Linked DNA regions of Homo sapiens: regions 1, 2, 3, 5 and 6 are each reported to be linked to region 4. Evidence: microRNA targets listed by miRTarBase, many of them from high-throughput screens and not tested one by one. Region 4 holds a microRNA gene; each other region holds the end of a gene's coding sequence. Distances are from middle to middle.
What was found. Region 4 holds the annotated microRNA hsa-miR-520g-3p (ACAAAGUGCUUCCCUUUAGAGUGU, at 2,332-2,355, opposite strand). A microRNA usually pairs through its seed, bases 2 to 8, with sites in the 3' UTR of a target mRNA and lowers its output. Matches are read on the target gene's strand: a 7mer-m8 pairs with bases 2 to 8, a 7mer-A1 pairs with bases 2 to 7 and ends in A, and an 8mer does both.

Region 1: miRTarBase lists ZNF257 as a target of hsa-miR-520g-3p. Seed matches in the 3' UTR shown: 7mer-m8 at 1,488-1,494.
Region 2: the mRNA of SLC35F5 is a reported target of hsa-miR-520g-3p. Seed matches in the 3' UTR shown: 7mer-m8 at 677-683.
Region 3: miRTarBase lists CAPZA2 as a target of hsa-miR-520g-3p. Seed matches in the 3' UTR shown: 7mer-m8 at 2,105-2,111, 7mer-m8 at 2,484-2,490 and 7mer-m8 at 3,922-3,928.
Region 5: the mRNA of MFSD11 is a reported target of hsa-miR-520g-3p. Seed matches in the 3' UTR shown: 7mer-m8 at 1,201-1,207.
Region 6: the mRNA of UBE2V2 is a reported target of hsa-miR-520g-3p. Seed matches in the 3' UTR shown: 7mer-m8 at 2,240-2,246.

What each region holds. Positions count from the first base shown.
Region 1 is chr19:22,088,614-22,092,704 of GRCh38, reverse strand. It overlaps ZNF257 (zinc finger protein 257), which reads right to left. Exons shown (of 4, transcript NM_033468.4): 4 at 1,225-4,091. The coding sequence ends at 3,263. Among named protein-coding and RNA genes, the nearest start is that of ZNF257, 38 kb to the right of the region's middle.
Region 2 is chr2:113,714,359-113,718,449 of GRCh38, forward strand. SLC35F5 (solute carrier family 35 member F5) reads right to left here. Exons shown (of 16, transcript NM_025181.5): 15 at 3,395-3,492; 16 at 1-837. The coding sequence ends at 3,417. Among named protein-coding and RNA genes, the nearest start is that of MIR4782, 5.0 kb to the right of the region's middle.
Region 3 is chr7:116,917,514-116,921,604 of GRCh38, forward strand. It overlaps CAPZA2 (capping actin protein of muscle Z-line subunit alpha 2), which reads left to right. Exons shown (of 10, transcript NM_006136.3): 10 at 214-4,091. The coding sequence ends at 354. Among named protein-coding and RNA genes, the nearest start is that of ST7, 34 kb to the right of the region's middle. RefSeq lists a silencer at 717-1,431.
Region 4 is chr19:53,720,501-53,724,574 of GRCh38, reverse strand. MIR520G (microRNA 520g) reads right to left here and starts at 2,409; the gene lies at 2,320-2,409. MIR517B (microRNA 517b) reads right to left here and starts at 3,499; the gene lies at 3,433-3,499.
Region 5 is chr17:76,777,805-76,781,895 of GRCh38, forward strand. MFSD11 (major facilitator superfamily domain containing 11) reads left to right here. Exons shown (of 13, transcript NM_001242532.5): 13 at 384-1,537. The coding sequence ends at 548. Among named protein-coding and RNA genes, the nearest start is that of LINC02080, 19 kb to the right of the region's middle.
Region 6 is chr8:48,060,105-48,064,195 of GRCh38, forward strand. It overlaps UBE2V2 (ubiquitin conjugating enzyme E2 V2), which reads left to right. Exons shown (of 4, transcript NM_003350.3): 4 at 578-4,091. The coding sequence ends at 724. Among named protein-coding and RNA genes, the nearest start is that of UBE2V2, 54 kb to the left of the region's middle.

The sequences.
Region 1 (4,091 bases), 32 Mb from region 4:
TTATGAAGTCTCCCTAGTACTTACCAAAGCAAATTAGCTCACTCAATAGATTTACTTATGTCAATTATAAAAAGTGAAAGAAACAATAAAGAAAATTAGCCTTATACAGGTTTCTCCAATAAAACAAAAATCAAACGTTAAAATATAACAATATAACTATTATATAAAAACTAACTTATATAAAAATATAACTAATTTTGTAATTACATCTAAAAATTATTTTGTGTGCACTCTTAAATTTCATAAAAATCATTCTTATAATCCCTGACCAGCTCACATAATGAGTACTTCATAAAATACAAAACAAGAACATTATGGGTCTAGCATGAGTACCAGACAAGTAAAAACAGAGAATGTGCATAGGGAGATTCTGAACTATAAGCCCTAACATTTTATAGCAATGAATTCAATACAATGCACAGAGTATAGATTTGCTTTCAACATTTTCGAGGTTTTTAGTTTTCTAATAAGTCACCTTATTAAAATAATTTGTTTTGTTCCAATATTGCTTTCTCCTTCCAAAAATGGGTACAAACTCATACTCATACACACTTACTTCATAATTTTCTTACACCTAAGGTTTATCTTTAGAGTAATATATGTATATGTTTAACTCTATGTAAATCAAAACTAAAAGCCTATATGTGTTTGCAGGCAGAGATAAATCATGTTCAAAGAAAAATATGTAACAAATTCTTTAAATATTTATTCAGTACTTAGAAATGTATCAATTTTATTTATACTTCTATATAAATTTTATTATGACCATAAAAATGACCCTGTAGTCAGAACAATTGCAAATTTTAAAATAAAGTACTTTTAATATTTTAAAATAACAATATTTTTATTTTACTAATCAAATTGTTTGTAATAAAAAGGATAAATGCTAGAGGTGATGGATGCCTCATTTATCCTGATGTAACTATTATATATTATATGCCTGTACCAAAATATGCCATATATGGCATAAATATATACACATACTGTGTAACCACAAAATTAAAAAGAATAAATTTAAGAAAAAAAGGATAAAAATGTAACCTATGGGAAAAATATTTTTTAACTTATTTGCAATTTGAAGCCATTGGCAGAAGAGATTACTAGAGGTGTTATTCCACTATGTTGCCAAATAGCATATTGTTACCATATTTTACCTACACCCTTGAGTAAGGTGGGGTATGTTAAAGTTAGTGGAATAATAATACTCCACTGAATGCACAAGTCTTTTTTTTTTTTTTTTTTTTGAGACGAAGTCTTGCTCTTGTTGCCTAGGCTGGAGTGCAATGTCGTGATCTTGGCTCACTGCAACCTCTGCCTCCTGGGTACACGTGATTCTCTTGCCTCAATCTCCCAAATAGCTGGGATTTCAGGCACCCACCACCATGCCTGGCTAATTTTTTGTATTTTCAGTAGAGACAGGGTTTCACCATGTTGGCCAGGCTGGTTTCAAACTCCTGGCCTCAATTGATCCGCCCGCCTCAGCCTCCCAAAGTGTTGGGATTACAGGCGTGAGCTACTGTGCCCGGCCTGAACGTACAATAGTCTTAACGTGGTAAAAGAAAATATTTAATTATAAATTAAGTCCACAAATAATCTAAAAATTTTAAAATGTACTGCATTTTATTAAATAAAAGTACAATCACTAACATTATATGGTACTATTTTAATTTTAACTTACATTTAACTAAAATTAAAAATGTTTTTCTCTCATAACATGAGCAACTACTTCATACATCACTAAGTTAACCACAAAGAACCTCTTCACTTAGACTCTTATGCATCTTATATTTCAGTGTCCTTACTATTTTATAGAAGAGGTCGTATATAATTCCCACCTAATAAAGTATCTCTCATATCTCTGATGCAGCAATAGTTGATCACATGCTTTCACAGGTGAATACAATAGAAATGAAGAAACAGCATGAAGTAATTTGAGAGTTGACTTACATCATTATTTACTTTTAAAAAGCTTTATAATTTTATCAAAAAAGTATACTTGAATTTAATTATGACTTCTCAAAGAAATGTCTACTCATTTTAAAGTTACATAAAATTAATTTACTTACCAACTGTAGTTTTGGATTTTCTATACTCAGCAATCTGATTTAGTGTAATGTCTGAAGTGTCAGTGCCTTAGCTATTTCTACTGTTAATTCTCTGATAATTATATAAACTCAATTTGAATTAAATATTTCTTTGTATTTATTGCATCTGCAAAAGTATATTTTAGTATGAGCTCTCTGGCATTTTCTAAGCTATAGTTATGGAAAAAATGTTTTTCCAAATTAATCACACTTGCTGAATTCTTCTCCAACATAAATTTCCTAATGCTGAACAAAATTTTAGCAACTGCTTCAGGGTTATTCTCTAGTACAAAATGTGTACAATAAAATCTGTGATACAAGTAAAAGCACTACAAACCCCTTTATATTTGTAATGTTTGTCTTTAGAATGAACTCTTCTTCACTTTAAAGGTTTATATTTCTGAAAGATCATTTGACAGTAATTGTATTTATAATACTTTTATTAAGTATGAACTCTCTGATGTGTAATATGTGAGCAAATATTAATGACTTTTCCACATTCTTTATATTTGTACACCATTTCTCAACTATAAATGCTTTCCTGTACAATAAGTTGTGAACACTGGTTAAAAGTTATATTCTTCACACTTGGAGTTTTCTCCGGTATAAATTATTTTACCTGCAATCAAGTGTGAAAACCATTTAAAAGTTTTTCATGTTCTTTATATTTCTAGAGTTTCGCACTAGTATAATTTTTTTTTATGTTTAGAAAAGTTTGAGGTATTGTTAAAAGCACTGTGACATCATTCAGGATTGTAGTTTCGCTCCAGTATGAAACATCTTATATCTGTTAAGAATTGAGGACTTATTAAGGGCTTTGTGACATTCTTCACACTTTAGGATTTCTGTCCAGTATAAATTATGTGTAATAAGGGTTGAGAACTTTTAAAGGCCTTGTCACATTCTTCATATTTGTAGGCTTTATCTTCCACATGTGTTCTCATGTTTAGTAAGAGTTGAGAACTGGGAAGAGGCTATGCCACATTCATCACATTTCAAGAGTTTCTCTCCAGCATGAATTATTTTATGCTTAGTAAATGTTGAGGATTTGTTAAAAGCCAGGCCACGTTCTTCACATTTGTAGGGTTTCTCTATTATGAATTCCCTTATGTTTAGTAAGGATTGAGGAACAGTTAAAAGCTTTGACACATTCTTCACATTTGTAGGGTTTTTCTCCATTATGAATTATGTTTAGTAAGGTTTGAGGAATGGTTACAAGCTTTGCCACATTCTTCATATTTGTTGGGGTTCTCTCCAGCATGAATTCTCTTATGTACGGTAAGGTATGAGAAACGATTAAAAGGCTTGCCACATTCTTCACATTTGTAGGGTTTCTCTCCAGTATGAATTATCTTATGTTGAGAAAGGTGTGAAGACCGGTTAAAGGCTTTGCCACATTCTTCACATTTGTAGGGCTTCTCCCCAGTATGAATTATTTTATGTTGAGTAAGGTGTGAAGACTGGTTAAAGGCTTTGCCACACTCTTCACATTTGTAGGGTTTCTCTCCAGTATGAATTATCTTATGTCGAATAAGGTATGAAGACCGGTTAAAGGCTTTGCCACACTCTTCACATTTGTAGGGTTTCTCTCCAGTATGAATTATCTTATGCTGAGTAAGGGTAGTAAGAGCTGAGGACCAGTTAAAAGCTTTGCAATATTCATCACATTTGTAGGCCTTCTCTCTAGTATGAATTCTCTTATGTTTAGTAAGGTGTGAAGACCGGTTAAAGGCTTTTCCACACTCTTCACATTTGTAGGGTTTCTCTTTAGTATGAATTATCTTATGTTGAGTAAGGTGTGAAGACCGGTTAAAAGCTTTGCCACACTCTTCACATTGGAAGGGTTTCTCTCCAGTATGAATCATCTTATGTCGAGTAAGGGCTGAGGACTGGTTAAAGGCTTTGCCACACTCTTCACATTTGTAGGGTTTCTCTCCAGTATGAATTCTCTTATGTTGAGTAAGGGTAGTAAGAGCTGAGGACCACTTAAAGGCTTTGCAACATTCA
Region 2 (4,091 bases), not on the chromosome of region 4:
TATAAACATTGTATTTTAATAATACTCTTTGTCACTTCAATTTAAATCATTCCATTATGAAAATTTCTTAATTGAAGGGAGACTATTTCTTCAAAACTCTAAATTAAACAGAGCTTTATCAATTAAGTTTACAGCAATATAGCCTTTAGAAATACATATTTCTTCATTTTATAATAATACTTCCCCTTTAAAAATTTGCCATGGTTTGTCACAGATTTAAAATACAAGGCACCTAATGCTATAAAAGAATAATACAGTAAATGTAGTGTAAGTGAACCAGATATTTTCTCAAATACTTATTCTTTTTAAAGTCCCATGAAATTTGCACAAACATGCTTGTTGCATAAATTAAACATTTTTTGTGTGGTTAATTTGCAATATTCTACAAAACCCAAAAATATAATCCACACTTATTACAGGTAGCTTATTTTAGCATTTTACCTGTCAGAAATACTGGTCTATGAACACTTAAGTGATTTCTTGAAAACATTTTCATAATATATTCCAGCATTTAACATGTGAAAATAAAGTCCCAGAACATTAGGATTTATTCCTTGATTAGTTCAAATGATTTCAACAGCTGAATTCCTTGAGATGTGTAAGGCAGGTTGGTCCTTTGGATGGACTGTAGACTGAAACTTCCTATAACTGTAGTGATATGTACACAGCTACATAGCAAAGTGCTTCATTATGAAAATGAAGAAAACAGGTATGAGAAAAATATATTTTAGAGTTTCAAAGAACTCAAACTGTTATTTTTCAGACTAGGCACTGAAACATTTTTTCTACAAAAACTTGCCAGAGATTGTCTCTTCGCTGTATAGTTCCATTATCAAGCTAAAAACAGAAACCACAGAAATGTGATTAGATTATAATTTCACAGTTTTAGTTTTCTATAGTTTACATTTTAAAAAGCAAATTATCTTAAAATTGAAATACCTATTTTCACTGTATACATACTTAATAACTGGATACTCAAATTTGGAGTACTAAGAACTTATGAATGTGACTTCTATAGCAATGTCAAAAGCTGACATCAACACTAAAGACTGTGTATTAGCAGTTAGTTGTACTCCTGGTATATTCCACCATTACTCCTGCAAAGACAAAGTCACCTGCCCAGTCTATTCTACTCTATTGCAATCCATCCTCCCTAGTCTTCACTCTCTCCTTTACACAGCTCTCACTTCTAAAAATACTGAAACCTTGCTGGATATGGGTAGGTTTAAGTGTGAGTACGAGAACAATGCACAGCATACCCAAGAAAAATAATGCATAAATTACAGCATTAAAAAGCTTTCAAGAATACAAAGTCCTCACTTAATGTCATAGGTTCTAGGAAACTGACTTTAGGTCCCCGAATAACATTTTTTCGTTCAGTGTTGTTATGTTATAATGTTGATGCAAAAAAAAAAAGTTTTGCTGTAATTTTGCTTAAAGTCACAGTTTATAAGAACCTACTGATGATGTTAAGTGAGGACTTACTGTAATTGTGTTTACGTTTTTTTAAATTTAAAGATGGCACATAAACATATATTTAGTTCCACTTGTTCTCCAAAACCTCACTAAAAAGGAAACAAAGGGTTAAAAAAATATATTTTTTAACAGAAATAAGGTCTCACTATGTTGCCCAGGCTAGTCTCAAACTCCTGAGCTCAAGTTATCCTCCCTCCTTGGCCTCCCAAAATGCTAGGATTACAGGCATGAGTCACTATGCCCAGCCTGGAATTTTTTTCTTAAAAGGAATAAACCACATGGACAAAAAGAAAAGTAGAGAGATGAGAAAATAACAGCCAACTCTTGGTTAGCAATGGAAAAACAGGACCAGATATCTCTGTAAGGAGGGGTGAAGAAACAACTAAAAACATGAAGACTGGTATAATGTCTATAGAAAAAGCAGACAGACACTCAGATGCCCTCTCTTACTTTTCACAGTTGGCCAAGTGCCTTTTCTCTACCCCAGGAGAAGACTTTAAGGTTTACTCTCCAAAAAGGGTAGTAACAGAGAATCTCTGGATAAGGGAAATACCAGGACGAATCCTACATAGCTCAGTCATAAGTAACAATTTTTTAGTGACAACAATATAAACACTGACTACAGATCTATCCAAAGTTATGCAACAACTACACAGGGATGATGAGGAGGCAGAACTGATATGGAGACAGGAGGCCTATGAGGTGGGAGCAGAGGAGGAGTCAACTTGAAAATAATCTGTCCTCGTTGATCTTAGTGGGAAAGTCAGCTGAAGATGCCTAAAACCGAGAACTCATGAAACACAAGTCATAAGCATGATACTTAGGGAGACAAGAAGGAAAATACCAAAAGAATCAGCTAAGAGTTTAATTTCCTCAGAGTGGGAAGAAAATGAAAGCAGGATGAGCAGGGCAGGGAAGGGCAGGGGTAACTGCCTTGTACAAAAAGTCTTGGAGAACTAGAGCTCAAACCATGTGCAGGTATAAACTAGATTTAAAAACAGCACACTAAAGAAAAACAGAAAACCAGGACCATTAGCTGTAGGTTAGAAGCAAGTTTACCAGGAGGATAATGAAACTTAACCTTCAAGCCTAATATAAGTGTTAACAACTGACAGGAGTTGTACAATGTTCTAGATAGGGAGGGAAAACTCAGTAGCAATCAAGAAACACTTCAATATAAATTGCCTAAAGATGTCTTAGAAAAACTAGAAAAATTCTAGTAGTTTTTTGTGATCTTTCATTCTAAATAATCACTTTTGTACCTGCAAAATCTGTACGTTACATTTAATTCAAGCTTTCATTCAGCAAAATATTAAATGTCATGTACTCTATCATCGAAGACATATAAAAGACACTATTTCTTAAAATGGAAAAAATGGAAAAAAATTCCAGAAGCATTGTTAAATGACAAAGCAATGTCAGAGAATGAGGATAAACACTGTGCCAGTTATGTAAAACAGACACATAAAGACTAGTATTTTCCAACCAGTATATTGTACACCAGAATATTACATTTTTCTTTTATCATCAGAGAAAAAATATTTTTCTAAAGCATATTATTAAATAAAATGACCCTTAGCATGAATAAAAATGAGTTAAAACTTTCTGATCATTTGAGTCAGGCACTATTATACATACTTTATATTTACCAAGTATTTACTATTTTAACACCCTCATAAGGGAGGTTCTACTGTAATCCCATTTCACAAATAAGAAAGCTGGAGCATCAAGAGATTAAGAACCTTGCACAGGGCCACACAGCTAGTATGTGGAGAAGACGGAACTGGAGTCCAGGCTTTAGCCCCTTTAGCCTCTAAGGCTGTATTGCCTCTCAAACAACTAATTATAGAAAATCAATCCTTTGAATATTACACAGATAAGAACCTTATTCAATACTAAACCCAGCTCACATACAAACCTGGGCTACAGACAACAGACAGCTAACTAGCTCCATCCTCCTGAGAAACACTGTGCATAGAAATGAGACTCTCACACTGTTCGCTGTCTTCTGGAACTCTTAAGAAAAAAAAAAGCAGTAATTAAGGAAAGCTTTAGAGCTGAAAAGGAACCTCAAACCTTATTTATTCCATTGCCTGAAGCTATGTGGACAGGATGCAAGTCAGTGGCAGAACCAACACTAGGATAAAATTTCCCAAGAACTTGTCCCAAGTTAGCGTTTTTTGTTTTTGTTTTTTAAATAAGAGATAGGGTCTCACTTTTTGTTTTTTAAATAAGAGATACGGTCTCACTTTTTGTTTTTTAAATAAGAGACAGGGTATCACTTTGTCACCCAGGCTAAAGTGTAGTGGTGCTATTATAGTTCACTGCAGCTTTGAATTCCTGGGCTCAAGTGATCCTCCTACCTCAGCCTCCCAAGTAGCTTGGGACTGCAGGTATATGCCATCATGTCTGGGTAATTTTTTTTTTAATTTTCTTAGAGACAGGGTCTTGATATGTTGCCCAGGCTGGTCTTGAGCTCCTAGCCTCAAGCAATTCTCCCACCTCAGCCTCCAGAGTCACTGGAACCAAGTTCTTTTTATAGCAAAATGTAAAAAGCTTTCATTCTTAAAAAGAAAGAAATTGGAAAGAAAAACTGAGGCAATACTATTCTATCA
Region 3 (4,091 bases), not on the chromosome of region 4:
CCCAAAGTGCTGGGATTACAGGCGTGAGCCACCGCGCCCGGCTCTTCTAGCTGCTGTTAAACAGCTTTTAAAACAATGTTGGGATTTTATTTGACTGTTTAAAAACAGTGAAACAGGCTGCTTAAATAAAACTTATTCTGAAAACATCTATGTGCTTTATAAATTGTTCTGTTCTTTGCTTTACTTTAAACTTCTAACTATTGTTTTTCATAGACTGCCATCAGTGAGAATTATCAGACAATGTCGGACACTACTTTCAAAGCCTTACGTCGACAGTTGCCAGTTACACGCACTAAGATTGATTGGAACAAGATCCTTAGCTACAAGATTGGCAAAGAGATGCAGAATGCATAAGATGAACATTGCATGACCGGATCATTTTAGTGTCTTTGCGTTAAAAAATCATTGCAAAAGTATTCTGAACTGTCAAGCTGCCCAGTCAGATGGGCTGTTGCCATTTAAAATCACTGTAATTAATTAGTTTGATTAGAGCACAAAGCTTAGCTAATCAACCATTATTTTTCATTTTGTTTGTTCTAAGAGGATTGAAAATCAGTTTAGTTTAAATGTCTTTCTGTTAGGCCTTTCTTTCTTACAATGAAGAGATGATTCTTCTAGTTTATGGTTAAAAGTTTTTGAAGTGTCTCAAAAATATTTTACTAACTGTAACCCTAAAATTGATGTCTTTTGGTTTATGAAATCAGTAATTTTTGATATTTCCCCAGTTCTTTTTAATGGGGTCAATAATGGACATTCTAGTTTAAGGTGGTTGATGGATTTAGCCATATATGCTGCTAAAGAAATTGTCTACCTTTTCTTCCTCACCTGTTCCATTTATGTAAAGTTGAGATTAGAGGGAAAGCATTTTCTATATCAATTGTGTTTAAACCTTTCAAGAAGGTTATTTAGCTAGCTTAGTGTTGAACTAAATTTTTTTTAAACAAGGCAAGGTCTAATGCTGTTTTGAGATTCTGAAATTAATGAAAATACTTATTTCAGAAATGCATTTAATGCTTTTTTTCTTGTGACAGTTACGCAAATCAGCTTGAATTCCATATGTCCCTGAGTTATTTTTATCATAAAGCCACAAATGTATTATAACAAGGCAAATTGTAATATATATAATCCTGAACTCATGACCATGTCTCGGTTTATTTTTTTTTTCTTGGATTGAAAAGTACTGAAATTCAATGTGACATTAAAATGCAAATTTTCCTATTTATTTGAGTAGAAAATCACTTACCAGTGAGCATATATATTTTAAAATACTTTCTTTGGATATTGTAATTCTTAACTGGTTGTAAATTAGAAAAGCTGGGATTACATATGGTGTGCGGTTACAGTCTAAATTTTTTCATCCTCCTATGCATCATAAGCATGTTTGTAATATTTTCAAAAATAGTTCTACTGATGCTACAGGAATTTCAAGCCTGTGGTGAATGTTAGTATTTACCATAGGGAGTGAAGTGGAGTTATGGTTTCATTCAATAGAGTATTGCTGATTATACTTGAGTGGAATCCTTTCCTCACGTACTCCCACAGACGTCTGGGCCTGGAAATTTTTTTTTTATTTTATTTTATTGTTTTTTTTTTTAGAAAAACACCACTTTTATTATGTACAATAAAATATTTCATTAGCTTGAATTGTATAGATTTTTAAAAATTCAATGAAAGCATGTTGTTTAATTTCTTTTTAAAATCACTGTTGGGCTTTGAAAGCATTGAGAATATAATATGAAATTATGACATTTTGTCTAAATCATCTTTTCTTTAGTTTTAAAATACAAGTTTTGGCACATTGGGATTCCTAAAGAAAATGAATTGGTAACATTAATTATCTGTTCCTTTTTAAAATATATATATTTGAAAGTTTGATGATGGTGAACTAAATACTAGATCTAATTGACAAGCTTAGTTGTATCAGTTAGGCCATCATGAGTTTCTATCCCATGAAAGTCATCAATTTCCTATCTCTGTTCTAGTCTGGAATGCATTACTGAAAATGTATGCAACTGTTTTTAAGGTGATTTGCTTGTGAGACGGAAGATTTATCAAAAATAATTTAGAACAGGCTGGGCGCGGTGGCTCACATCTGTAATCCCAGCACTTTGGGAGGCCGAGGCGGGTGGATCACGGGGTCAGGAGATTGAGACCACCCTGACTAACACAGTGAAACCCTGTCTCTACTAAAAATACAAAAAATTAGCCGGGTGTGGTGACAGGCGCTTGTAGTCCCAGCTACTCGGGAGGCTGAGGCAGGAGAATGGCGTGAACCCGGGAGGCGGAGCTCGCAGTGAGCCGAGATCGCGCCACTGCACTCCAGCCTGGGTGACAGAGCAAGACTCTGTCTCAAAAAATAATAATAATAATAATAATAATATAATTTAGAACAGTCTGAAATAATGATGGCACAGAATAGTCTTTTATAGTATAAGAATGGCATTTATTAGGCAGGGCACAGTGGCTCACACCTGTAATCCCAGCACTTTGGGAGGCCGAGGCGGGTGGATCACGAGGTCAGGAGTTCGAGACCAGCCTGACCAACATGCTGAAACCCCGTCTCTACTAAAAACAAAAAAAAATTAGCCGGGGATGGTGATGCGCGCCTGTAATCCCAACTACTCAGGAGGCTGAGACAGGAGAATCATTTGAACCCGGGAGGTGGAGGTTGCAGTGAGCAGAGATCGAGCCACTGTACTCCAGCCTGGGTGACACAGGGAGCCTCTGTCTCAAAATAATAATAATAATAAAAGAATGGCATTTATTAAAGTGAAAGAAGAATGGAAACCCAGAGTATCCTATAGCTCAGGGATGTAATTTTAGTAGGAGACATTATGGCTGCTTTGCTGAGTAGGCTGAAGTGTGGTGGCAAAGGCATAATCAGGGAGAACAGCTAGGAGACTACTGCAGTAATCTAGTTGAGAGAGCATGCTGGCTTGGACTGAGGTGGTTGCTGTAGAGGTGGTATAAAGCAGTGAGGTCTAGGTATATCCTAAAGGTAAAATCAGCAAGACCTGGGGAGAGTTTGGTCATGGAGTGTGAGATAAAGAGAACCATGTCTGGGGCTGGAGAAATTGAGGAAGATTCTTGTAGGAGCAAGTTGGTTTGGAGAAGAAGGCTGGTCAGGAGCTCAGTTTTCTATTCAAAGGAGAAATATCTCATGTAGCAGTTAGATACAGGAGACAGGAACTAGAGGAAAGCTCTGGGCTAGAAGAATGGGAAAGTGCATGAACCTGGAAACAATTTTATAGGCAGACAGGATGAAGGACCTCAAGGTTAGTGATAATGAATTTAAAGTAAATGAGACCAATGATGAGCATGGCTGTATGTTTTTCTTCAACCGTGTAAAGCTGTTTGGGTGCAGGCATAGAGTAGATGAAATAAATTTCACCAGGGCTGTGGTTTTGCCCAGAGTGAATGACCACATGAAGAGGGGCAGGGTATGATGATGGTCTGTGGAATTTCAGCTGGGTAAGCAGGGAAGTGAGGGCTTGAGACGGGGGGAGGGATAGTGAAAATGTACAACCAGTGGATTATAGGTGTGTTAAAGTAGGGGAACTAGAAAGAATGACCTGGAAATGTAAGAAGTGGGCCGGGCGCAGTGGCTCATGCCTGTAATCCCAGCACTTTAGGAGGCTGAGGTGGGTGGATCATGAGGTCCAGAGATCAAGACCATCCTGGCCAATATGGTGCAACCCCATCTCTACTAAAAATACAAAAATTAGCTGGGCGTGGTGGTGTGCCTGTAGTCCCAGCTACTAGGGAGGCTGAGGCAGGAGAATCGCTTGAACCCAGGATGCGAAGGTTGCAGTGAGCCGAGATTGTGCCACTGCACTCCAGGCTGGCGACAGAGCGAGACTCTGTCCCAAAAAAAAAAAAAAGTGGTGGGCTGGCCACGATGGCTCACGCCTATAATCCCAGCACTTTGGGAGGCCACGGCAAGTGGATCATTTAAGGTCAGGAGTTCAAGACCAGTCTGGCTAATATGATGAAACCCCTTCTGTATTAAAAATACAAATATTAGCCGGGCATGGTGGCACATGCCTGTAGTCCCAGCTACTCAGGAGGCTGAGGCAGGAGAATCTTTGAAC
Region 4 (4,074 bases):
GAGAACACATGGACACAGGAAGGGGAACATCACACACCGGGGACTGTTGTTGGGTGGGGGTAGCGGGGAGGGATAGCATTAGGAGATATACCTAATGCTAAATGATGAGTTAATGGGTGCAGCACACCAGCATGGCACATGTATACATATGTAACTAACCTGCACGTTGTGCACATGTACCCTAGAACTTAAAGTATAATAATAAAATTAAAAATAAATATATAAGTAGGGATACAAAAATATGACAAAAAAAAAACAACCAAACACAGACACATGCAAACAAAAAATACGCAAGGTGATATCAGAGTATTCTCTGTATTTAGAAGAGTATTTTGTGTGTACATGATTATATTATATATGATAAGAATATATAAAATATACATGATATATTTTTGAGACCCTGTCTCAAGGAAAGTTCCATACATCGCATACTCACAGGAAGAATAATTCCTACACAAGTTCTTGCTTTGGTAGTGCACATAAAAAAAATTGGAATGACAGAGATTACCGTGGCTGCTCCACAAAGGTGACACTCAAATTCACGACGGTCCCGTATTTATCTACGTATTTTTATTTGTTTTATTTATTTTTGAGACGGAATCTTGCTCTGTGGCCCAGGCTGGAATGCCATGGCTTCATTACAGCTCACTGAAATCGCCTCCTCCTGGGTTCAAGTGGTTCTCCTGTCTTGGCCTCCCGAGTAGCTGGAATCACAGATGTGCACCACCGCACCCAGCTAATTTTTGTAGTTTTAGTAGAGACAAGGCTTTGCCACGTTGGCCCCGTTGGTCTTGAACTCCTGACCTCAGGTGATCCTCCCGTCTTAGCCTCCTAAAGTGCTGGGATTACAGGCGTGTGCCGCTGTGCCTAGACTATTATTTACTTTGTTGACACTGAGACTCACTCAGTTGCCCAGGCTGGAATGCAGTGGCGCAATCTCAGCTCACTGAAAGCTCAGCCTCCTGGCTTCAAGCGAGTCTCCTGCCTCAGCCTCCCGAGTAGCTGGGATTACAGGTGTGTGCAACCAGGCCTGGCTGATTTTTGTATTTTTAGTATGGACGGGGTTTCACCATGTTGGCCAGGCCGGTCTCGAACAACTGACCTCAGGTGATCCTCCTGTCTCGGCCTCCCAAAGTGCTGGAATTATAGGCAGGAGCCACCATACCTGGACTAGTCCCATCATTAAAATTAGGGGGAAACAAAGATGCCCACACCTAAATAGCGTATCATTTATTGTTTAAGCACATCTCAAATACATTGTTTATCTAAAACACAAGTTTAACTGAGGGCCGGGACGAACCAAAAAATGGTCCTTACTTTCTTCCTGCCTGTGCATGGGTTAATATTTACATGTAGTCCCATCTAACAAGGCCTGGGAGGGGCAGAGGCAGGAGGATCTAAGACCACTTTAGCCAGGGCAGCATAGTGAGACCCCCGTCTCATGCATTTATCTCCTGGTCATGCACCCAAGATTTCAGCTTCATTTCCCCAATACACACTGAAGCCCCATGCACTCCACCTCCGTGCTCTTGCTCATCCCATCTGCAGGGACACTGAGGTCCCCTCAACTCCACCTGACCCCATGTGAGGTTCTATACCAGTGCCAGAAAAATTTCCATAAAGTAAGAGGTGTTGATGGCCACGCACCATGGCTCACGCCTTTGGGAGGCGCGCGGTGGTGGCTCATGCCTGTATTCTCAGCATTTTCGGAGGCCAAGGTGAGTGGCTCACTTGAGGTCAGGGGTTTGAGACCAGCCTGGCCAACATGGTAAGCCCCATCTCTACTGAAAAAAAAAAAAAAAAAAATTCAAAACGTAGCCAGGCGTGGTGGCGGCCACCTGTAGTTTCAGCTACTTCAGAGGCTGAGGCAGGAGAATTGCTTGAACCTGAGAGGCAGAGGTTGGAGTCAGTCGGGATCATGCCACCGCTCTCCAGCTGGGGAAACGAGACTCCATCTCAAAAATAAATAAATGAATAAAAAAGAAAAATACAAATATTAGCCAAGTGTGATGTCGGGCCCCTGCAATCCCAGCTATTCAGGAAGCTGAGGCAGGAGAATAGCTTGAACCCGCGAGGTGGAGATTGCAGTGAGCCAAGATCGTGCCACTGCACTCCAGCCTGGGTCACAGAGGAAGACTGTCCCAAAAAGGACCATATGAGCCCAAGAGACCTAGGTTGGAAGTGCCTCTGTACTCCAGCCTGGGCCACAGAGACCCTGTCTTAGAAAACAAAAACAAAACAGAACCCCAACATCATCCAAGTCTGATAATAAGCATGCAAATATATTACCAACATCAGCATCAACTTCAACACTGCTTTTCCCAAACGGTAACACTCTAAAGGGAAGCACTTTGTTTTTTCTCAGACAACAAACAGAAAGTGCTTCCTCTAGAGGGTCACAGCATGGGATCTTCTTGCTCCAGCACTCTGGGTTTCTTGTTGGAATTTTCCTTGACCAGGTTAAAACGGATACAAAAATAAAAATGCATTTATTGGCCCTGTTTACATGTTTTATGGAATCCAGAACATAAACCCCTGAAAGGACCATCTCCAATTCCTTGCTTCAAAGGCTCAGCAGGTTAGCCTTGTTCATCAAGGGGCGATCGTCCTGAGTTTTGTCCCCAAAGAGAAAAAGGAATACCTACTACTCATACCTTACATTTAGCTAAGAGAATTGGGCTGATGTTGAAGAATATACATTGTCTCACACACAAACATCCTCCAGGATAGACCAGAGTCTAGGCTGACTCTAGAGGACCACGTGAGATTAGGGGCGGTGGCTCACGCCTGTAATCCCAGCACTTTAGGAGGCCAAGGCTGGTGGATCACCTGAGGTCGGGAGTTTGAGACCAGCCTGCCCAACATGGTGAAACCCAGTCTCTATTCAAAACACAAAAATTAGCTGGGTGGGGCAGTAGGCACCTGTAATCCCAGCTACCCAGGAGGCTGCGGCAGGAGAATCGCTTGAACCCAGGAGGTGGAGGTTGCAGTGAGCCTAAATTGCAACACTGCACTCCAGCCTGGACATCAAGAGTGAAACTCCATCTCAACAACAACAACAACAATAAAAATAATAACTAGCAGGACACGATGGCGGGCATCTCTATTCCCAACTATTCGGCAGGCTGAGGTGGGAGAATCGCCGGAAGCTGGGAGGCGGAGTTTCCGGTCAACAGGGATCCTGCCGCTGCACTCCAGCCTGGGAAACGGAATGAGAGCGCATCTCAAAAAATCAAAAATAAAAAGATCACCACTTGAGCCCAAGAGATCTCGGTTGGAGGTGCCACCCACTCCCGCCTGGGCAACAGGGAACCTGTCTTGGAAAAAAACAAACCAAAGAGAACCCCAACATCATGCAAGTCTGATGATAAGCACGCTCTGCAAATGTATTACCAAGATCAGCAGCATCTTCAACGTTGCTTTTCTCAAACAGTAACACTCTAAAGGGATGCACGATCTTTTCTTAGACAACAGACAGTGCTTCCATCTAGAGGGTCACAGCATGAGGTCTTCTTGCTCCAGTACTGTAGGGTTCTTTTTTTTGTTTTTGTTTTTGTTTCTTTTTGACGGAGTCTTGCTCTGTTGCCGAGGCTAGAGTGCAATGGCACGATCTCGGCTCACTGCAAGCTCCGCCTCCTGGGTTCAAGCCATTCTCAAGCCTTAGCCTCCCGGGTAGCTGGGACTACAGGCACCCACCACCACGCCTCGCTAATTTTTTGTATTTTTAAATAGAGATGGGGTTTCACCGTGTTAGCCAGGATGGTCTCGATCTCCTGACCTCGTGATCCACCCGCCTCGGCCTTTCAAAGTGGTGGGATTACAGGCGTGAGCCACAGCGCCCAGCTTTTTTTTTTTTTTTTTTTTTTCAGACGGAATCTCACTCTGTCATCCTGGCTGGATGCTGTGGCACAATCTCGGCTCACTGCAGCCTCTGCCTCCCGGGTTCAAGCAATTCTCCTGCCTCAGCCTCCTAAGTAGCTGGGATTACAGGTGCCCACCACCACACTGGGCTAATTTTTGTTGTTATTGTATTTTTAGTAGAGACGGATTTTCACCACGTTGGTCAGACTGGTC
Region 5 (4,091 bases), not on the chromosome of region 4:
CTTGTTACTCCAGTTTTCCACAAAATGCTATTTTTGTTTCATTTTATTTTATTTTGTAGAGATGGGGTCTTGCTATGTTGTGCAGGCTGGTCTTGAACTCCTGGGCTCAAGCATTTCTCCCACCTTGGCCTCCCAAAGTGTTGGGTGGCATGAACCCCCACACCTGGCCAAAATGCTATTTTAAATACCAGGAACTGTGGCAGGAGTTTATGGTGCATGTTTGTGAGTCAGTGACTGAGGAAGTCATACCTTGATGCAGAAAGAATAGAAAGCACTGTGAGTTCCAGGTGTCCTTGGGGCAGGATAGGAGTGGGGCTAGGGGCTAACTGTGGCTCAGTGTGGCCCCCGGTGCGCCCGTTGTGATTTGTTTTGTTTGTTCTTAGTCTATTTGCGCAGCCGTGGCATTTTTCTACAGCAACTACCTTCTCCTTCACTGGCAACTCCTGGTCATGGTGATATTTGGGTTTTTTGGAACAATTTCTTTCTTCACTGTGGAATGGGAAGCTGCCGCCTTTGTAGCCCGCGGCTCTGACTACCGAAGTATCTGATCTGGTGTCCGTGAGGGGACACGTATGACCTCAGAAACACAGCTGGACACAGAGCTTGGTGGAAGAAGTCGCCTTTGATCTTCACTATATATTGGGTGATGTTCAGTATGGAAAATCAAGGGATTAAGACTGTTAAATCAGCCAGAGTTGGTGTTCAAGTTTACAGATATGAGTTATTTAAAGCAAGTAGAATAAGGGAAAGCTGTTCTGTCAACTGTAATTGTTCAAAGATGTTGTTTTTCATTTCATCTATCTCAATTCTTATAATCATGTTATAGAATGTAAATGTTTTCTTCTCTCTCCTGCTCTTGTTGGAAGATCCTGCCTTGATTTAGAATACTAGGCCATATGTCATATAAATATTTTTTCTGGATATGGAGTATGTTTTGCCATGTAATAATGGGAAGCATATGTCATTCCCCATATGTGTTGGAGAATGACATTTAAATAAATAGCAAAGCTGGGTGTGGTGTTGCACCGCTATACTCCCAGCTGTTGGGGAGGCTGAGACAGAAGGATCACTTCAGCCCAGGAGATTGAGGCTGCGGTGAGCTATGATCACACCACTGCACTCCAGGCTGGGCAACAGAGTGAGACCCTGTCTTGAAAATAATAATAGGCTGGTCACAGTGGCTCATGCCTGTAATCCCAACACTTTGGGAGGCTGAGGTGGGTGGATCACCTGAGGTCAGGAGTTTGAGACCAGCCTGGCCAACATGGTGAAACCTCATCTCTACTAAAAATACAAAAATGTGTTGGGTTTGGTGGTGCATGCCTGTAATCCTAGCTACTAGGGAGGCTGAGGTAAGAGAATTCGCTTGAACCTGGGAGGCGGAGGTTGCAGTGAGCCGAGATCGTGCCATTGCACTCCAGCCTGGATGACAAGAGTGAAACTCCATCTCAAAAAAAAAAAAAAAAAAAAGAAAAGAAAATAATAATGATAATTTTTTAAAATAATGAAAAATAAATAACAAGATGCTGAAATGAAATATTGATTTTGAAAAGATGTCTTCCTCTGTAAATGTTTCATTTGATAAGTTTTCTTACCTTGTAGCTCATAGCAAGGAGTGGCCAGTTAAGTATTATGAAATAAGGTAAAAATTGTCATAAGTCTTTTTTAAAATTTATTTATTATTTATTTATTTATTTAGAGACGGAGTCTCACTCTGTCGCCTAGGCTAGAGTGCAGTGGCGTGATCTCAGCTCACTGCAACCTCTGCCTCCCGGGTTCAAGCAATTCTCATTCTTTAGCCTCCCAACTAGCTAGGATTACAGGCATGTGCCACCACACCTGGCTAATTTTTGTATTTTTAGTAGAGATGGGGTTTCACCATGTTGGCCAGGCTGGTCTGGAACTCCTGACCTCAGGTGATTCACCTGCCTCGGCCTCCCAAAGTGCTGGGATTGCAGGGGTGAGCCACCATGCCCGGTCCTTTAAGTCTTAAGAACAGGGATCTAACATCTGTAACAACAAAAACATTGAAAAAGACAAACATATTTACTGAGGGAGGACTTTTGCTAGCAATTTTCCTGGAAGATGCAATGCAGAAACCCCCAAACAAACCTGGAATGAGATCTGAGCTGCGTCATCAGGCCAGTGTCACACCGTCATTTATGTGTCCTCCTCGAGCAGTGCAAGTCTATCATCCTGGGTGCGGGAATGGAACATAACTATTTGGGGAGATGTTAAATGGAAGTGTTAGCTTCCCTCCATAAGAGCTCACTTAAATTTTTTTTTTAAATTGAAATCAAATCCAGAAACCATAAAAATGTCCCATTTTAAAGTGTACATTCACAAGGTTGCATAACCACCACAATGATCTAATTCCAGGACATTTTATCACCCCAAAAAGTAGTCGCTGCCTGTCAGCAGTCATTCTTTCTCATCTGGCATGGCAACCACGAATCTACTTTCTGTCTCTATAGATTTGCTTATTTTGAACATTTCATGTAAATGAGACAGCTCAGTTTTGTTTTTTTTTTCTTTTCAAATTTTTAGTAGAGACAGAGTCTCCCTATGTTGCTCAGGCTGGTCTTGAACTCCTGGGCTTAAGTGATCTTCTTGCCATGGCCTCGCAAAGTGCTGGGGGGATTACAAACAAGAGCCACCGTGCCTAGGAAGAGCTCACTTTTGTTGTTGTTGTCTTTTGGTTGTTGTGTATGTGTTTTTTTTTTTTTTTCAAGACAGCGTCTCACTCTGTTGCCCAGGCTAGAGTGCAGTGGCGCAATCTTGGCTCACTGCAACCTCCGCCTCCCAGGTTAAAGCGATTCTCCTGCCTCAGCCTCCTGAGTAGCTGGGATTACAGGCATGCACCACCCCGCCTGGCTAATTTTTGTATTTTCAGTAGAGACGGGGTTTCACCATGTTGGTCAGGCTGGTCTCGAACTCTTGACCTCATGATCCGCCTGCCTCAGCCTCCCAAAGTGCTGGGATTACAGGCGTGAGCCACTGCGCCCAGCGGCTCCAGATTTTGAAGTTCTGGTTTTCCTTTTTGAAGCTGATATAACCTCCATTGGCTTAGTTGATCCTATATAAATAATTTACAAATGCCCTTTTAGACTTAACAGTAGTGATTTATTATCTCTTTAAGCACATTATTTATCAAGGTGTATTAGTTTTCTAATGTGCCATAACAAATTACCTCAAAACGTAGCCACTTAAAATAACACACATCTATTTCATCACAGTTTCTGTGGGTCGGGAATCTGCGCATGGCTGAGCTGAGTCCTGAGCGTCTCTCCAGGCTGCAGTCCATGTCTCTGCAGGCTGCAGTGAAGGTGTGTTCCAGGCTTCACTGGGGGAGGGCCTGCTTCCCTGCTCACTCGTATAGTTGTTGCAGGAGTCAGTTCCTCACAGACTGTCAGGCTAAGTAAGGATCTTGGTTTCTTATGGCTATTGGCTAAAGATCGCCCTCTGCCCTTCATCATGCTACGGAGTAGTCCTCAGGGCAGCCTACGACATGGCAGCTGTCTCCATCAAAGGTCACAAGCAAGGACAGCTGGAGAGAACGAGAGCAAGACAAAAGCCGCAGTCTCTCATAACTTCATCACTGTTGCACTCTGTCTGTTAGGTGCCAGTCACTAGTTCCAGCCTATTCTCAGGGAGGGAATTGGTGGGGAGCATCTTACAAGGCTGCCCACCTTGTCACCTGTCACACTGAGACTTACATGGAAGGTGACAACTGGGTCCTGTATTCCCAAGCCTCGCATTCTCCAGGCCCTTGCTCTGTTTGCTCATAATGGATCTGTACAACCCTGCTGGCAGAAGGAGGTGAAGCCACCTCTGTTAATGACACTGAGAATTTTAATCTGAGGAAGCCATGGCATCTTGTCACCCCTAGGATTCCTGGTGATTATTGTCAAAAGGGAAAGGAAATGAAGTGAAGTGCTGTGTGCAGTATGGCAGGAACCCAGCTTTTCCTAGGCTGCCTCCTACTGGCTTTGTGCTATGGTATTCATTTTCAGTTTCGTACTCACTTTTTTGTTAGAGACAGGGTCTTGCTTTGTTGCCCAGGCTGGATCACAGTGGCACAGTCATGGCTC
Region 6 (4,091 bases), not on the chromosome of region 4:
CCTCATGAGGCAGGAGAATTTCTTGAACCTGGGAGGCGGAAGTTGCAGTGAGCCAGGATCGCACCACTGTACTCCAGCCTGGGTGACAGAGTGAGACTCTGTCTCAAAAAAAAAAAAAAAAAAAAAAAAGGAAAGAATAATTAGGAATAGTGCGTAGAATACATTGGAAAGAAAAATCTGAAAGAAGAGATCAGGTTAGTAGCTTTTGTCTAAATCTCAGTGTGAGATAATTCCCCAGATTTTGGGCGGTGGCATTGGAAATGGAGAGGAACCTTTTGACCTTACTCCATTAAGAAAGAATTGGTAAATTTATTGACAAAGTAGTTATTTAATATAACATTTATTTCTGATGACCAAAGTTCACTGTATGTTTTATGTCTTTATATTTTCCCAAAATATTAAACTAATTATGATAAAATATACTAATTATGGTATTAGTAATTCCATAGTGTATGTTTTGTGAAAATAGAGGCAAGCTATGAATTTTCAAAATCATTCTTATTAAAATATGCTTAACAAATTGGTGCCATAGTACTTTAAACTTGCTAGTTAACTGTACTCTTTCCTCCCCTTTCAGGTGGATGCCCGGAGCATACCAGTGTTAGCAAAATGGCAAAATTCATATAGCATTAAAGTTGTACTTCAAGAGCTAAGACGTCTAATGATGTCCAAAGAAAATATGAAGCTTCCACAGCCACCAGAAGGACAAACATACAACAATTAATTTTAGTGGATCTCAAACTTGTCTTAAATCAACAACCTTCTACTCATGTTAATGTCTTGATTAAATATCACAATGCAAAATACACATTAAGTAAAAGAATTCCAGCTGGTAAACATGACCTGGACATTTGTAAGAATATATTTAATATATGTACACCCATTATGTTTTCAGGTAACAGGAGGAAAAATGCAGCACAATTTTTTTTCTCTTGAAAGGCACTGTCATTTAAACATAAACCTGGAGTACTCGAAATAGAATTCAGGTTTACAAGATGAAAGCGTGTGGAGAAGTGTCAGATGGCAGTGGAAGCATGTGTGTTTCTAAAAAGTAAAAATCTCAAGAAAACAGAAATGGCATGCTTTACCCATCTTACTTAGTGAAAGAGAGCTGCAGTTGAAATTGTTTAAAAAGTAGCAGGTACAATGAATATTGTCACAGATGTGTTAATTTTTGAAGCAATGTGGGTGCTGACTACTAGTAGTATCAAAAATATGTTCAGGATTGTTTTGATACCTGTATTTATAATAAAAAATGTTGGGGGGAGTTGATGAATTCCTGTTAAAAGCTGTTCTTGTGTGTTACATGTAACAGACATGGTAAATATTTGTTTACAGTCTTTGTTTAACAAACCATGCATTTAAGTTTAAGTGAAGTCAACAAAAAGGAAATAGGTGTATGGATATGTGATTTTGAGATTAAAGTTAGTCTTAAAATGTAAATAAAATGTGAAACGTGTCCTCAGAGACTGTGCCATTTCTATTATGTTGATGTATATGTACAGTACCTTGCCAGGGAAGCAAAAATTGGAATTATTGTAGCTTTTCATGTATACACACTTTTATTTACCCTATTTTGTGTACTTCTTGTGAATTATAATTTGCAGACTATTTCAGAAAAGAAATTATCTAGTTTAATTTCTTCTTTGGACAAGGAGTCCTAGGTATTATATTTTGAGTTTGATTTCACCAGAAATAATAATATTAAAAAGATCTTTGCATTCTGGCAGTTCTTTTAGGATTATAGGTTGCAAATTATCCAAATATATATCCCATTTTTTAAAGCATAATATCTTTTTTAGTTGTTTTTCTGTGAAGCTTTTGGTTAATAAATAGGGTCAACTAATTGGAGACTTTTCTCTTCCAATTAGGGCTTTTAATACTAACAAGGATAACTTTATTCATTCCTCGTATTCTCTACTCTAACAAATATGAACTCTGAAGTTGAAAAGTCATTTATGTTCCGCTTTCACCAAAGTGACGTGAGGCTTTAGGTCACTGTTTCACTTCAAAGTACTGGATCCAAAGCTTTGTTGAAAATGCTGTTTGATGAATTCACTGAAGAATATAGAAAGGTGGTCAGGTAAAGTCTACTTTTATTTTGTCAAGCTTAATAATTTGTGTCATACTTTACCCCAGTATATATAGGCAAACCAAAACCTTATCAAATATTAAATTAGTTGTTTAAACTTTGCTTATAAAGTATTGGCCATGTGGTGGCTCATGCCGCTAATCCCAGCACTTTGGGAGGCTGAGACGGGCAGATCACTTGAGGTCAGGAGCTTGAGACCAGCCTGGCCAACATGATGAAACCCTGTCTCTACTAAAAATACAAAAAATTAGCCAGGTGTGGTGGTGGGTACTTGTAGTCCCAGCTACTCGGGAGGCTGGGCAGGAGAACTACTTGAAACTGGCAGACAGAGGTTGCAGTGCCGAGAGCGCACCACTGCTCCAGCCTGGGCAACAGAGCAAGACTCCATCTCAAAAAAAAAAAAAAAAAGAAAAATATTAATAATTGACCTTGGCTGTATATTAAAATAGTTACTTTTATAGTAGAGCACATTTCTCAAACATGCCCTGAAAGGCTTTTATCAAGCTCATATAAAGTTAAAGCTTTGAGCTACCTTTTCTTGGCCAATAAAGTCACTGACAGTTTATGTAAACATTAATTTCAACATGGCTGTTGCATTTTAATTATCAAAAATGTTTAAAATGCTTTAAGATGACACATAGAGAACATACACATACATACAAATTAGTGCATTTGTAATTTGTTAAATTTGAAATGAACTATTACCTTGAAATATAGTCTTTAAAAATTTTTAATGGTTAAAGATTAAATTGAATGAAACTGTAGTCTAATGGTAACTGATGATCTGAATCCGTCTCTCTGATAACCTCCTTTCCATTTTGAAAATGTGTCTTATTATACATGGAAGCTAGTAACTACGTGAATGCTGTTGGCAGGATGAGGGTCTGGGTACCTCAGTCTCTTGTCCTGTTTCCTTCCCCCAAATCCACCATTGTGAAGTTGCCAACCCCCTGCCGCCTTCCCCTGCCAAGTACATGTTGTCAGAGTCAGCCCTATAATGTTCATTTCCCCTCTTGTTTGTGGGATTATGGATCTCTGCAGAAATCTGCATGCCAATTAACCCATTTCTAAAGCAGAATCCATTTTGCATGTCACAATCAAGATGTACTTGGCAATCTAAGACACACTGGGAGACTGTAAGAGGAATTAATATAGAAAAGCTCTTAATTATAATAACATTTGGAAGAAATTTTTCCTTTGTTTTGTAAAGTGGCTAAGGTTGTAGGAGTGTGTGGTATTTATTACCTTTTAAATGAACTGTAAATTTGCCTTAGAAATTTGTTTAAAAGGCTAGCAAGTGAGACCCTTGAGGATGATCATATACTAATAAAGATTACCAAAAGAAACTTCTTGTCCTGTTAGGTCAGTGTTATGATTTAATGGTTTTAATTACTTAACCAATTTTAAGAATTGACAATTTTTAAAAATATTTTTTTCTACCATTCTAAAGTAATGTCTTTTGTTGTGGGTTTATGTGTAACTACAGGATTTTGGAACATAAACATTTTGAAGGATAGTCAATGGTATTTAGTCTTGGATATAAAAATAGAGAAAATTTATAGCTTTATGTTATTAAAATAATTTATCACACAGAGTGATTTGAGGTTTTCGCAGAGTAGATTTGTTTGACTCATGGTTTATTAGTCTGGATTACTTAAGAACAATATGTTGATTTTAATGTTAATTCCCACTAAATATATAATATTGATAAATACATGTGAAATTAATATTGTTTGGAAAATGTAGAGGACACAGCTGGGAATTATGAATGCTTTTTTCTTAATAGGTTTGGTGTGTGTGGCTTTGAATGGTTCTGCTGATGCATCATGGAAAGACAGCAGGGAACTGTAGCCTGCCATCAAAACTGTATCAACTCTTTTAATGAGCATGTGACTGTATTAGGTACATTTTGAAGAATATAAGTACTGATGATAAAGTCTAGTATGCATAATAGGATTTTGGAGGCATTTCAGGAATTTTCCTTTTATAGTATGCTTTT